2 linked regions of the Homo sapiens genome follow. The protein of the gene in region 2 interacts with the protein of the main gene of each other region in a pairwise test. Each region holds a gene or a part of one and is shown on either strand. Other genes may lie near its edges.

What was found. Proteins that work in one complex are often made in the same cells at the same time.
Region 1: the proteins of NOL4 (region 2) and C1QTNF2 interact in binary tests that used the Homo sapiens proteins (3 or more experiments, as listed by UniProt).

Annotation. Positions count from the first base shown.
Region 1 is NC_000005.10:160,360,205-160,365,084, forward strand, and holds part of C1QTNF2 (complement C1q tumor necrosis factor-related protein 2 isoform 1 precursor), read right to left. Parts: intron 1-4,880. UniProt on the Homo sapiens protein: Involved in the regulation of lipid metabolism in adipose tissue and liver.
Region 2 is NC_000018.10:34,213,848-34,219,425, reverse strand, and holds part of NOL4 (nucleolar protein 4), read left to right. Parts: intron 1-5,578.

The sequences.
Region 1 (4,880 bases), on a different chromosome or scaffold from region 2:
CCTCCCCCATGTGTCTCCACTAAAATGTAAGCTCCATGAGTACAGGACCCCAGCTGGCCACCTGGCTTCAAACTTCCTCACACACAGTGAATGTTCAAGAAATATTTGCTTAATTAGTAAGTGTTGGAGACGCAGACTCTGCCCTCAAGAAAATCCACAGCGAAGAGAAAACCAGACAGTGGCTGAAATCCAGAAGAGAGAGCACTGACACCCCTTGATACAAATCTGTTCTTTTTTCCTCTGCTTTTCTAACCCGAATCAGATCAAATCCCTCCTTGCTTTTGACCCCTTACAGTATAGGGGCTAGGTTGTTCCCTCTCTGGCCCCTAGGGTGGGGCCAGCCTTGCAGAATGCCTTAGATAGAGTAGGTGCTCCATAGAGAGCTGTCCAATTAACCAGAAGAGAGGTAAGTATTAGTCCTTTCTCACCTGTAAAAAAACAATCTGAGTTCCTAAATTGTCCTTTCTGGGGGTGGGAAGGTGTTAGTTTAATATGGAAGCCTTCATTAGAGCCTTCCTACTAAAGGGATAAAAAATATTAGTTGGTTAAACCCCAGAAATGGAATTGTGGGTTGATAAACTTGGATGAGTTCTTTTTTTTTTTTTTTTTGAGATGGAGTCTCGCTCTGCTGCCAGGCTGGAGTGCAGTGGCGCAATCTCAGCTCACTGCAACCTCCATCTGCTGGGTTCAAGCAATTCTCCTGCCTCAGCCCCCTGAGTAGCTGGGACTACAGGTGCGCACCACCATGCCCGGCTAATTTTTTGTATTTTTAGTAGAGACGGGGTTTCATCATGCTGGCCAGGCTGGTCTCGAACTCCTGACCTCGTTATCCACCTGCCTCGCCTCAAAGTGCTGGGATTACAGGTGTGAGCCACTGTAGCTGGCTGAACTTGGATGAGTTCTTAAGTCTGGCTTTCAGCTGCCCAGTCCCTGGGCTTCTCATCTCTCTGTTAAGTAGCTAATGATTCATCAATACACATGTTCTAGAAAAGCGCTAGGAGCTAAAGTGCCACAGGCTGGGTCTACTGTCAGGGAAGTCTTCCTCCTGGCCCACAGGACATGGCCCTCTGGTTTATTCCCAAGGGCCCTCTGCCCAGACTGTGATGTGAGAGGTGCCAAAAGTGGGGACGTGGGCCTCTCATTGATCCTTCCTGAATGTGTCTGCTAGTAGTAGAAGCTCCAGGAATACTTGTCTTGAGCAAGCCTACTAGGCCTGGGTGCTGAACAGTCTCCCGTTGCAGATTGGAAGATGTAAATTATGCTCAAATAAATCTGGCCTGTTGGTTATCAGGTTTTGACACACTGACAGATAGGAGTGGCATTTAACTCCGTGGTTAAGAGCCATGGAACACCCAGCACTTGATTCCCTCAACTATGCAATGAAAATAATAGTATACCTACCTCAGGGAGTTTGTGTGAGAAATGAGTGAAGGAATGCATTCAAAGATTCTATTTAGCCCAGTGTTTGACACTGTAAACGCTCCACGGTTGGAAAGAACTGTGCCTAAAATGCCCCCAGTCCTTAACCTCCTCTGGGAAGCCCTCAGGTAGCTGCCAGCCTCATCCTTCAAGTCTCAGGTCTCATATCATCTCCTCAGAGAGACCTGCCCTGATCACGTGATCCAAAGCATTGCACCCATCCTGCATATGCTCTTATCCCATCCTGTTCTTTCAAGGCACCTGGCCCAATTTGTGATTATGTATTTGTTTGTTTCTTGACTTGTTAACTCTCTGGCTCTTTCCCTGGAATGGAAGGTCCAGGAACGTATGGGCCCTGCATGTTGCTCTCAGCTGGGCTGCTGGAGCCTAGCGCAGCACTGCATAGAGTAAGTGCTCAACACGCAGCTGTTGAATAACCTTGAATGAACTGGCCGCCCTTACGGAGACTGGAATAATCCAGGGTGGTCATAGGAGAAAAATCCCAGGCAGCAATTTGACATGATTAGAGGCTATATAGACCGATAAGACCCTGAAAAACAGGGTGTGGACCAAGCTGGCTAAGACCCACTGGACCCAACATGTTGATGGATTTGATCTAGGTTTCACCTAGGACCTCTTTATACGCTGATTCATGTACTCAATCACACACCCACCAGTGCCACGACAGCTCCGAGAACACCCATATTTGGTGTAGAAATGAGTGGCACCACAGTTCCGGGAAATCTCCACCTTTTTCCAGGAATTTTCATGAATATTCCACCTCTTGGTTAAAGAAACCCATAAAGATAGAAACCCCAAACACTTCTGCCCAACTCTCTCTTGAGAATGCCCACAGCCCCCTCTCCTGAGTGTGTACTGTTTTCCCTTGCAAAAAATCACCATACTTTCACAATTTTCTGACTCATCCTTGAATTCCTTCTTGAGATGGTGTCAAGCGCCTGGACACTGGCTGGGGTCGAGGTCCCACTGGCGTTTGAGGACCTCCCCAGCCCACCGGTATTATTATAATTTATAAAACAAGGGGATCTCAAGGGTCTCAATAAACGTGCGGATGACAAAGCCTCACTTGGCTACTGAGGAAAACCCAGTGCAATGACTGGGCTTGGATTCTGAAGACTGGGGTCCCAGTCCTAGTTTTGTAACTTACTGATCGCGTGACTGTGAAAGTCAGTTCATCTTATCTGGGCCTTCATTTCCTCACCTGTAAAATGGAGATATTAACATTTGCCCAGTCTGCCTTACAGGGTTATTCAGAGAATCAAATAAGATAGTGGATTTGAAAACAAAACGTGATACAAAATTAGAGTCGTATTTAAAATTGTAATTGTTACTAGTTGCAATTGAACTAAGGGATCACAGTCCTGAACTCCCACTGGGAGCCCCAGGAGTGTTTCAGGGGAGGCCTCATCCTTGGTGGAGGAGGACACCCAAATCTCACCCAGCAGGGCAATTCTCCCTGTGTTTGGTGTTAAAAGGGACAAGGTTTGCTTGCAGATGAAGCTTGCTGAAAATCCACTTTGATGGGAGAATAGAATACTATAATAAAAAACACTCCACGCCCTCCCTGAATTCCAGGAAGTAAATTGGAAACAGTCCTCTCCAGCTTCTCTGAAAAGCTAAAGAGATCCTTTGGAGGAAAAAGCGGCTGGCTGCCGCTCCTCACAGTACTCACGAAATGTCCCCTCTCTCCAGATCTCAAGATCAGTGTCCTTTTGGAAACTGTCCAGAATCCAGAGTCTAAATACAGAGGCTTAAAAGTCCTGGGGCCCACTTGACAGGATGCCTCAGAAAATATTTGATCTGCTATTTTCTCTCTCCTCATTTCTGGTTCAGCCTAGAAAATGAGATCCAAGGACACATCATGATCTAACAAGGTCTCAGAAGCCAGGGGTTTGTCTCAGCAAGAATTCCTGAAAGCACACAGGAAATCAGCCTGTATGTTAAAGCTGAAGAATTATACCTTCTAATATATACAAGCCCAGCCTTTACAAAATGACAAATGTGGTGTATAACGTGGTGGGCAGTGGAGCCCACCCCCTGGGCCCTGGCCTGCTGCACGTCTGAGCCTCAGCTGCCTCCTCTGCACAATAAGGGCAAGAGTCAGGCTCTGGAGCGGCTGAAGACAAAGCCATCAAGCTTTGGCATTGTCTGCAGCTGTTTTCTGCCACGTGGAGACCAAGGACTGCCATGGGAGAGAAGAATGCAGCAGCTGTGCGAGATGTGAGGGGTAGAGAAGGCGGCTGAGGGTGTTCATATCCCCATATCGCATCCTCAGGGCCAGTCTCCACGTGCCTGACCACAGCGGTGGGGGAGTGGGTGTGAGCAGCTCAGCCCAATAGGAAAATGACGCAAGTCACATGTGTCAGTTTGTCTTGTAGTCACATTAAAAAAGTAAAAAAGAAACAGGTGAAATTAATTTCAATGCTATTTAGCCCTTGATTTCCCAAATATCATCATTTCAACATGTAATCACCATAAAAATTATTAATGAGACATTTTACATTCTTAAGTTAGTACTAAGTCTTTGAAGCCCAGTGATGTATTTCACACTTGCAGCGGATCTCAATTCAGACTGGAGCATTCCAAGTCTCCAATAGCCGCATGGTGGCTTCCATAATAGCTCCAGCATAGCTGTGTGAGTTCAGATGCCATGAACTAGCTGTAGTACCTTTACACGTTACTTAATCTCTCCCCTTCAGTCTCCTCCTCTCCAACATGAACACGATAATAATAGAACCTACCTTAGACAGTTGTTACGAGGATTTAATGTTTCTAGAATAAGGCCTGGCATATGGCAAGAGGTATAAAAGCATTAGCTTCTATTATTTTATTATTTCTTGCCCTTCCGAAAATCAAACAAGATAATGGATGTTGAATGTAATGATACGAGTTTTAAGACCTTGTTTAAAATTGTAATTGCCACTAACTGCAGTTGAACTAACAAAAACCAGTCCTGATCTGCCACCCTGAGTCCTGCATGCATTTCAGGTAGAGACTCCTGTAGCTTCTCATAAATTCCCATTTTCACTTATCACTTTGAGTGATGGCTCTGTCAGGTGCTACCAAAAAAAAGTCCTAGGGAGGCTGGGCCTTTTTTCCTGCCTTGCTGTTTCTGCTCTGAGGGAAGGATGGGGTGTTGCCTTGGCTCCACAACTTTGAGCCACCTGGCGTGTCTGTGCTCCATAATACAAAGACCAGGGAAGAAGCGGGATGGTGCTCATCTCATCAAGCGACAGGGCCAAATGGGATATGAGGTGTGCATGTGTGCATGATACTGTAGCCTGGCACATGGATACCCAATAAATAGTATGGTTTATTATTACTGCCTTTGAGGCCAGACACTGGGGAATTAGAGGTGAAAAGATGTAGTTGCTGCTCCTGTAGGGCCCACTCTGATCCCTAGAACTACCTGGGCAGGTTATAACTGTCTGCTTACCTGA
Region 2 (5,578 bases):
AGGAGAAAATTTATTAAACGCTCTTTTTAAAAAGTCCTCTGCATTGTATAAAACATTAGGAATTTGGTAAGCTCATGTTTTTGTCTTTCAGTATCAAGCAAAGAAAGTAATGAATATGAATATTGAAACTGTATAATCAAAAGATGTAATACTTTTCTTAACCTATATTTGTAGGAACAGACACAAAGGTCTAAATTATGCCTTTCTTATATATATTTCTTTCTTATATTTATTCCAATACAGGTCTTAAATGAATTTCCATCCAGAAAGGAAAATGCATTATCTTTAGTTGTGCTATTTACAAATGATGATTTATTCAGTTCTGCAATCTGTAGCCTCAGATTTCATATTGTTCTTGCTGTGCATACTACTAATTGATTACTGTACAGTGATTATAATGAATATTCATGGACTGACTCATAAACAGTAACTGTTTTTGTTATTTTTCTGACTGTGGTTTTGGTCATAAATCCTTTATGCTACATCAGAGTGAAAGAAATAATACCCCATGAGGAGTCCTGTATACCTTTCCACCTGGCCTAACTTTATGCCTAAGGCACCTATATTAGGCCTTGATCTGGAATCTGCTACAGACCCAGTTATTTATCATGATACTTTGTATCTATGACACAAAGACAAATCATCATAGTGGTCACTGAGATGGAAGCACATTTTTGCTTCTATAGTGGACATTGCTGTTGATAGCCCATGCATTTTTCTTTTCATTAAAGTACTTTGGGAGATCCTGTAGCATAGGATTTGGGGGTCAAATAGATCCCGAGAATGAATATCAGCAATGTGGCTTATTAGCTGACTTAGTGATTCTTTGTGGAGTTGTGAAGAATAAATCATCTATGACAAGTCCCCAGCATAGGTCAGCTCGCAGGGAACAGTGGGGACCAGTAGTAAAGGCCATTCTGGCTTGAGTATTAAGGGGCAGGAGATTTCCTCTGAATATAAAGAGGAAATATGACCCTGTTCGTGTATGAAGACTATCCCACACTTATTTCTTGAGATACCAGTTTTTTATTTTTCCGTTGGTTCTTCCTTGTCCTATTAGTAGCCACAATAGGGAGATGGGGCAAGATTTGGCACTCGTATATATTTCTTCTGTAATCTTCCTTAGTTTGCTGGGATCCTGCTCCCTACGGGTTTACTCTCTAGACTCACTGCATAAGACGGAGGAATGATGAAGTAGAAAATACAGGCATATGGCAGGAGAACTTTCAAGGACTTTAATTTTGTGTCAAGTCTATAAAGACCTTTTCCTAATAGCTGTTGTGTTTGCTAAGACTTTCACTCTTTGTTTTTTGTTTTTTTTTTTTTGGTCTAACTGGGAAAGATGAATGTGAATCTACTATGTTTTAGGTTATATTCATTTTTACAATCTTTATATAACAAGATAAAACAAACTTCATGGATAGCATAGATGGCAAGAAACATGGCATAGTGAGTAGAGTGTTGATTTTACAGCACAATTTAAATCCTGGCTCTGACGTTTACTGGAGTTCTGGGTCGGCTAAAGTTTAACTAAAGATGCAGTTTCCTCTTGTAAAATGTTAGTATTAATACTAGTCTTACTAGTTTTGCATAGTTAGTAGTGTATATAATATATACTAACATATACTATATATGCATATGCACACATATATACACATACATATACACACACATACACACAAGCATGTGGTATATGTAGCATATGCCGGGGACATAGTAAATGCTAAAAAAAAAAGTTGCTTAAAATATGATTCATAGAACATGAAAATCACGATGTAATTATAATTAGGTATATTTTATGAACTCAAAATCACATTGCAACACGGAGCTAAAATACAAGGTCAAGCGCGGTGGCTCATGCCTGTAATCCTAGCATTCTGGGAGGCTGAGGCAGGCGGATTGCCTGAGCTCAGGAGTTTGAGACCAGCCTGGGCAACACAGTGAAACCCCATCTCTACTAAAATACAAAAAAAATTAGCTGGGTGTGGCCATGTGCCCTTGTAGTCCCAGCTACTCGGGAGGCTGAGGCAGGAGAATTGCTTGAACCCGGGAGGCGGAGGTTGCAGTGAGCCGAGATCGCACCATTGCACTCCAGCCTGGGCAACAGAGTGAGACTCCATCTCAAAAAAAATAAATAAATAAAAAAAAAGAAAGAAATACAAGGTATACTTGTATGTATTTATGTACATATGTATTATTAAGATTTATTCTACCTACTCCATTTTTGGAAGAAAAAATGACTGTTATTGTAAAAGTGATACTGTCTCAGTTTTTTAAAAAAGTTAAATGAAAAGGAAAGAAATAAAGAAAAAGTCATACCAAATGTCCCATCAAAATATAATCACCGTAAGCTAATTATGAACATCATTCTAGATTCCTCTCTAGAAATATATGCCAAAAGAAGAGTCGATAAAATGACTGATAGTTGCATATGGACAGGCAGAAATAATTTTCTAAAACTAGGATGATGATGATATGCTAATTTAAGTAAGAATAAGAAAATATAAGATTGTCAATGCGACAAAAGAAGAAATACATAAAATTTAATGAATTGCTAATAGATAAATGTTTCTTCTCAAAGATATTTATTCCTGAAGTTAATGGAAAAGATTAAGAAAAACTTTAAGATGTTGAATTACACTTATTTTACCAATTACAAATTTCCGTTTTATAAGTATTATTGACTTTCTCTAATGATAAATGAGAAGCATATTTTCACTTCTTCCCACCTCCTTGTTTCTTAGATCCTGGTTTACATTTCATTTCACTTATTATATTATACTTATTATATATTATAATTTATTATATTCATTATATTATAATTATGTTTGTGTTGTCAGGGTTGTTGATATTAATGTTAAATTATGTAATTTCATTTTAAACATTATTTTCCTATTTAAATGTTTATTATCTGTTTTGTTATCTGGTTTCCTTTACCTCTGAATTCCTTGATTTGATTGACTCTAATTACAGTTTATCATTTTTTTCCTAAAGTAGGTCCATGCACTCTATTCTTTGAATTTTATATACAATTGAGAGTATTTGTCTTTTACCTTTATCCTTGAAGGACAACTAACCAGATGCAGATTCTGTATTTTACTTTTTCTCTCAGAACATTATAGATATTGTGTGTGCTCTGTAAAATTCTAAGGCAAATTGATTTTCCCAAATTTCATGAATTGTTTACTTCTTTATCCTTGAAATTAAATTATTTTGCTAAGATATATTTGAATTTCTTGTCTAACTCTATATTTTGTCCTGCGTAACTGTGCCCCTGTTTATGACTTCAGTTAGGCCTGTGTTCTGGTGACATAATGTATATCTTCTGAAGTCTAAATCTGTACAGTTGATCCTTGAACAACACAGGTCAGGATTGCCTGGGTCCACTTGTATGTGGATTTTTTTCAATAAGTATTTGGAAAATTTTTGGAAATATATAACAATTTGAAAAAACTCTCAGATAAACTGCATAATCTAGAAATATAAAAAATCTAAGAAAAATATATGCCATGAATGCTTAAAATCTATGCAGGCACTAGTCTATTTATGGCTTAATAGACTATCTTTTTGCTAAGGCTTGCAGTCAACAGTAGACTATTAGTAGTTAAGTTTTGGGGGAGCAAAATTATATGCAGGTTTTCAGGGGCAGAGGGTGTCAGTACACCTAACCCCAGGTTGTTCAAGGGTCAGCTGTATTTTCGATTTTCTATTGGGTGTTTTCACCAAGATATCCCAAAATATCTCAAATTAAGTATGTCTAGAAACACATTTTTCTTCCTTCCATTTTCCCATCCGAGGTCCTCCGAGCTGACACATCTTTTTCTTATTCCCTCTCTCCATGGATAGCAGCACAACTTTACTTACCTGTACAAGGTGAAATTTGTATGGCAGCCTTGATTTCTCCCTCTTATAGTCAATGTTCAACTGTTGGTTGATTCTACTAAACTAATATTTCTTGAAGCCATCAGATTCTCACCATATAATAAAATATGCCTATTGCTTAATAATTTGTTAAATTTCCACAAAACTATTTTGAAGAAAGATTTAATCTCCAGTACCTGGCATAATGGGTGATGCATTTTGATGTTCAGTATTAATGGAATAAATAAAAATCACTTCCCAATCTGACATGACATAATGGGACATTATACAACAGCTTCTTATTTACCACCACACAAGAGCTTTTTAGTTTTATCTACATCTATATCTATCTGTCCAACTGTCCATCCATCCAACTATGTGTTTTAATTGTGATAAAAAAAACACACAACATAAAAGTTACCATATTAATCATTTTACATTGTAGACTTAAGTAGTGTTAAGTATATTCACATTGTCTTGCAACAGATCTCCAGAGCTTTTTCATCTTGCATAACAGAAACTATATTATACAACAGTTCCCCTTTTTCCTTTCTCTCCATCACTTGGTGAAGTGCCATTTTAGTTTCTGATTATATGAATTGAACTACTTTAGATGCCTCATATAAGTGGAATCATACAGAATTTGTCTTTTTATAACTGACTCATTTTACTAGCATAATGTCTTTAAGATTCATCCATGTTATAATTATATGTGACAAGATTTTCCTCCTTTTAAAGGCTGAATAATATTCCATTGTAGGTATATGCCATTTTGTTTGTCCATTCATTAGTTGATGGCCATTTGGATTGCTTGTACTTCTTTTATTGTGAGTAGTGCTGCAATGAACACGAGTGGGCAGATATCTCCTCAAAACCCTACTTTCAATTTTTCTGGATATGTACACAGAAGCAGGTTTGCTGGATCATATGGTAGTTCTAATTTTTTGAGGATCTCCCTACTAATAATAATAATTTGAAACAAAAAGTCCCTTTAATCTTCACAATAGTCCTATGGTATTAACACTTTTTATTATACTTATGTGAAGATTATGGTTTACATTAAGGTGAATTTCTAAAAATCACACAGCTTGGGACAAGAAACCATTTGGATTCTAAGGCCCTTGCTTTAAATCACTGGTTTCCAAATTCTAATGATAACGTAACTCATTTGCTAAAAAAGATTCCCCCAGTATATACACTTTTATAAACTACATCTATATAACACTCTACCAATACTTAACCCATTATAAACTATATTTAAAAGTACAAATATATTGGGCTGAGATTAAAATATATATAAATCCAAGTTTTAACATTTCCTTCTTCACCTCAATAGGTTATCTTATGCACTGCCTGAGTGTACACATACCAATTTGAATACCTTATTCTAATTTATAACACCATATTGCCTCTCAGAGAACATTGAATTTAAGACTTTACACTCAGCTAAAATACTTTCTGTCATCTTGTAATAAAATATTTTTATATGTAGAGGGAAACTAAGGAGGAATAATTGTTGACCTCTTAGTTATTAGTACATTCACAACTACAAAGATTTCCCATTGGAGAAATCCTACTAAAAACTCAAGTGGAGAATTCTATATGGAGTACTTATTTAAATATGGACCTTTTAAAAGTAAAATGAATGTTTCAAATGCTTCTCAAAACATTAGGTTCATGCTTGAATGCAATATTCTAAATTTTACCCCATTTTTTC